Linked DNA regions of Homo sapiens: region 2 is linked to region 1. Evidence: fine-mapped expression QTL. Tissue or cell type: whole blood. Region 1 holds a variant in brackets; the other region holds the start of a gene. All regions are shown on one strand. Distances are between the middles of the regions.

What was found. PIP is the estimated chance that this variant, and not a neighbour inherited with it, causes the effect.
Region 2: it holds the start of CHST11, and the variant in region 1 is fine-mapped to the expression of CHST11 in whole blood (INTERVAL, PIP above 0.99).

The regions. Positions count from the first base shown.
Region 1 is chr12:104,586,243-104,589,002 of GRCh38, forward strand. All of the region lies in intron 1 of CHST11 (carbohydrate sulfotransferase 11), which reads left to right. Among named protein-coding and RNA genes, the nearest start is that of MIR3922, 4.0 kb to the right of the region's middle. The variant T/C (reference allele first, on the strand shown) is at 1,574.
Region 2 is chr12:104,455,542-104,458,041 of GRCh38, forward strand. CHST11 (carbohydrate sulfotransferase 11) reads left to right here and starts at 1,407. Exons shown (of 3, transcript NM_018413.6): 1 at 1,407-1,988. The coding sequence starts at 1,871. RefSeq lists enhancers at 1,076-1,125, 1,146-1,225, 2,146-2,195 and silencers at 1,296-1,425, 1,506-1,675, 1,716-1,995.

The sequences.
Region 1 (2,760 bases):
AAGAAAGCAGAAGCCTGGGTAGGCTCAGGGTTTGCCCAGGTGCTCTTGAGATGGACAAAGAATGGGCGAAAATCCCTTGGGCTTTTAAAAGGTTGTGTGGCCGGGAGGGACTGGAGCCCTGGGCGAGATGCCTGCCTGAGTGAGGTGGGGTTGCTGGGCACAGTCAGACTGTGTGAAGACTGTGTGAGTGTGAGATTATCCTGGGCAGAACTAAACAGCTTTCTGGACTCAAGGGGAGGAGGCAGGTTTGGAGTTAATGCCCCGCCATGCTTGAGTAGCTTAAATAAAGGTTACCTGGACTATTTCCTTTCTCCAGCAGCTACGTTACTCTGTCTCTGAAGCCATGGGGGAACCCCAGAGGCAGACATCAGCGTGTCCAGGTTGTAAAATCAGACTTGGAGCGCCAGGCAGGGAAGAAAGCACTTCGGCATGTTTTCTGCCTCACTGCAAAATAAATGTATAAGCATTCCAGGGAAACTGCAGGGAGAGGGGAACATTCTTCAGCAGGCAAGGAAGGATAAATGCAAAGTAAACGTATAAGGCTTATAATTACTCATTTGAAGTGTGTAAAATGTAATTAATATGATCTGTGTTGCAGTGCTGTCTCTCTTGTTTTATTTAAGTGAACATAAAATGTAATTTATGAGGACTTCCCCAGGTTAACTGCCAATATCAATTCCTTGAACTGCGTTTTTTCCACAGCGTCTTAAGTTTCTCAGCAATAAAGTTCTTCTACTACTGTGGGGGTTTTCAGGGACAATTTATGCTGAGGTTTGGGGTAGGGGCTGGTTCTCCTTTACCCCAGACACTCACACCCTCCGCCCCTTAGGCCAGCCTGAAGATGCCAATTCCTATCAGTTATCTTCTCTGTTAATGTGAGGTCTTTTTCATGTCACTGTGATGACAGTGGTATACAGAAAAGGCTTCTAATAAAATTAAACTCACAAATCTAGGAAGCTACCTTTAAATTTCGAATCTTACTCTTCTATTCATAAGCCTTCAACAGATACATTTAGGGTGGCCTTTAATTAATATTTGGTCCTTTAACACACTTAATCTTCTGATAACAATTTAAATTGCATCTAAAATGTCATCTATTTACAGTTATTTTTGAATACTTCATTTGCCCAATTAATGAACAAGCATTTATTTATTCATTTGTTTATTTATTTTGAGATAGGGTCTCAAGCGGTTGCCCAGACTAGAGTGCAGTGGCAGGATCATGGCTCACTGCAGCCTCAACCTCCTGGGCTCAAGCTGTCCTCCCACTTCAGCCTCCCCAGTGGCTGGGACTACAGGCGTGCACCACCACACCTTGGTGGTGTTTGTATTTTTTGTAGAGATGGGGTTTTGTCCTGTTGCCCAGGCAGGTCTCGAACACCTGGGCTCAAGCAATCCACCCGCCTTAGCCTTCCAAAGTGCTGGGATTACATGTGTTCACCATCCTGCCCGGCTCAAGTATTTACATAATAGAAATCTAATGCCTCAAACTTAGAAATATGGTGAATCTTAAGATTTATTTATTTATTTATTTATTTATTTATTTATTTATTGTTTCAGACTCTTCAATTCG[T/C]TAGAGATTAAGTTTGTTTTTTGTTTTTTGTTTTTTTTTTTTGAGATGGAGTCTCACTCTGTCACCCGGGCTGGAGGAGATTAGGTTTTTTAAAATGCTCTAGTATTATATATAAACTTAGATTTCAGCTTAAAATTTCAAATCAAATAAATTGTTCAATTAAGTCTTTCATATTGTATTGCAATGTAGATCTATTCAAAGAGGCCAAAATCTTGAAAATATTAATATTATGGGTTGATTCTTAAACATCTCTATACTTATTTTAAAAACAGTTTTATTGAAATACTATTTACATGTAAAATTCACCCACTTTAAGTGTAGAATTCAATGAATTTTAGCATATTTATAGAGCCGTACAGCATCCCCGCAGTCTAATTTTAGAACATTTCCATCACCCTAGAAAGAAACTCTGTGTCTATTTATTGTCACTTGCCATCCCCACCCCTGGCCTTAGGCAATTGCTGGTCTACTTTCTGTGTCTATGTACTTACCAGTTCTGGACATTTTTTGCACTTCATTTGCAATCATCCTAGGTTTTTAAGAAAACAATTTTGGCATCTCAAACAATATTGGGGTCACCTTCTCAAGCCACTTTTCGGGTTACAGCCTCAGAAGGCTGAAGCTGCTTTCTTCAGAACTGAGCTCTGCTCTGAGTGGGTTCCTGCAGCCTATGACCCAGACTTGAGTCACAGACTGGCTCATTCCAATGTCTTGCCGCCAAAGACCAGACCCACCCAGGTGGCTTCCTTATGTCTTGATTCCTTCCTTGCCTGCCTCGGGCTCACAAACAGCTTTAAGACTTAGTTAAGTGAGAGCTGACTGAAGTCCATCCCGGTGATGTTTGACCTAAGGTCACTGTTCTAAAGTTCTGTACATGACAGCCATGCTCCATTGCCCACCTGCCATCCTTACAGCACCAACTTGGAGGCCACCAGCCAACCTGCTCACCAGCAGCCTCTGGGCTCCGCCTCAGGGTGTTGCTCCACGTCCCAGCAAAACAGCTTAAAAAGCAAAACCGCAGCCAGGAGTTGCATAGATACCTGAACACCCGTGTTCATAGCAGCATGAGTCACGGTGGCCAGAAGGTGGAAGCAACCCTAATGCCCATCAGTGGATGAATGAATAGTGGTATGTATGATGGGATATTATTCAGAATAATAATATGTCAGAATAACGAAATTCTCATA
Region 2 (2,500 bases), 130 kb before region 1:
TGATCTCCTATCACCAGAGCAGAAGAATCACTGGAGAACGACTCTGTCTGAAGCTTGTTCAGCCTGGCTTCCTTGAGCAAGCAACTTATTCACAGGTAAGTCCAAATTAATACAGCGCACACCGGCTACATAAATATTGTGCTTTGATTGTCTTCTGTAATCAAAGGCAAGGCTGCTGAGTTTGTTACTTTCCCCACCATGCAACTGCTGGAGGAGAACTCTGGGGGAAGGGAACTGAGGTTGCCCAGGTGGTTTTTGTTGCATGTGTCTAACTGCAAGTTGTGTCTCTGTCTATCGAGGGGAGGATAAGGCCCATTACATTCAGATTCAATAAGAATTTATCAAATGCCTATTTTGTGAGAGGCATTGAAAGACACAGTATCTTATTTCATTTTTAATTGAATTAGTAATGACTTGATAAGGCACAAAGGTTAGTCTAACTAACATTTTTTTTTTCCCTGACATACGAGTGATCCCTACACTATTGGCTGTGTCCACTTTATTGATTGTGAAACAGCCTAAATGCATGGAATTGGAAACTGGAAGTCATTCTACACAATACAAGAAAGCAGCACCATCTTTCCATGTACCTGCCAGTGCTATGGCTGGCTTGGCTTTTCCAGCAGTTTTCTGGACTTGGTTGAGGTGGCTTCCTAGGGGCATTTTCTCACCCCCTCCCAGCTAAGACTGCTGTTAATTTTGAATAATTTGGAGGATGCTCTACCCTTTGGGGTAGCAGAGTTTTGCAACCCACAGATCCCTTTTGCCTTGAGGAATGGTGGTGATGGTGGGTGTCAGAGATTCTGTCTGTATAAGTCCCCGGGAAAGCTCAGCTGTCGCCTGACCCGAGGGTCGTGCAGTTTCCTTAACCCTGACTTTAAGTCAGCCCTCTTTAACCCCGACTCCCAAGCTGGGCTGTCCTTTGAAAGAAAAACGAAACCGCCCAGTTCTGAGCGTCGGAAAATGGGCACTCGCTCCCTGGGGGTTTGGGGCAACTTCCCCGCTACGTCGCCCAGGGATTTTAAATAATTGCCAGCCACCAGAAACCCCCTAACCCTTAATTCTTCCCTCCGAGACCCAGCCCGCTGCTTGCCACTTCCCTCTCCAAACGCTGGCGGGGGTGGGTGGCAGCACCGAGGCGATTTTCTTCGTCTTTTTTTCCTCCGGGTTTTGTCATGGAAACGCTGACACAACCTCCAGACGGCGGCCGAGCCCGGCCGGGGACTGAGGGCTTTTGGGACCCTGCGGGAGCGCGGCGCGCACACCGCACTCCCCGGGCAACAGCTGGACGCGACCATATCCCGGGTAGGGGCGGGGGGAGCGCGACGCTCCGCCCCGGCGCTAGGGTCCCTCCCTCCTCCCGGCTCTCCGCAGGCGCCCTCCCCTCGCCGGGGGCCGCGAGTTGCATTTGGTAAAACCCAGCCCCGGAATATATAGATCGTTGGAGCGCAATGAAGTAGCCTTTGGAGAGAAGGGAGAGGGCCCGTCGGACAGCCACAGCGGCCAGCGCAGCGGCAGCGGCGGCGGCACCACCATCACCGCTCGCACCCCAGCCGCCCGGCCCGCGACCAGGCAGCGGCGGCCGCCGGCGGGATCGGAGGAGGCGGCGGAGCGGCGAGGAGGAGGAGCAGGAGCGCGCAGCCAGCGGGTCCACGCATCTCAGCACTTCCAGACCAACTCCGGCACCTTCCACACCCCTGCCCGGGCTGGGGGCTCCGAGAGCGGCCGCGAAGCGACTCCGATCCTCCCTCTGAGCCTTGCTCAGCTCTGCCCCGCGCCTCCCGGGCTCCGGTCCGCGCGGCGGGGTCCCTGCTCCTGCGCCCCGGGCGCGCTTCCCGGACACCCCGGTCCCCGCAGCCAGGACAAAGCCATGAAGCCAGCGCTGCTGGAAGTGATGAGGATGAACAGAATCTGCCGGATGGTGCTGGCCACTTGCTTGGGATCCTTTATCCTGGTCATCTTCTATTTCCAAAGTATGTTGCACCCAGGTAGGGGGCGCGTTAGCGTGGTTTTGTTGGATATTTTCTTCTCTCTCGCGCTCTAGCTCGCTCCGCCTGATTTCTGCCTCTTCCAACCCTACCTCTCCGCCTTCGGCCTCTTCGGGGCTCCTGGCTGCCCAGAGCTCCTGGCTGCCCAGATCTACCCGGGTCACCGCGTCGGGATGGGGAGGAGAAGGGAAGGTGTGCTTCGCCCTCTTCTTCCTACCGGCTCCGGGCTGGAGGATGGGACCAGGAGGGGCGGTAGTTTTTTTTTTTTTTTTTTTCTTCTTCTTTTTTTCTTTGTGTCCCTTGTCTGTCTGTCTGCGAGGTAGCAGGGAAACGGAGAGGTGTGGGAAGCAACCGGGGGTGAGGGGCTGGTTTGAGGAGAACGAAACTCCCTCCCTGCTGCTGCCGAGGTCGGAGGATGAAAGAGTTACCCGGAGCCGGCTGCTCTGCGCCCGGGCGAGCCGCCTCTTCCTGGTTGCCGGGCCGGGGGCGAAGGGTGTACGCCCCGGCGAGGT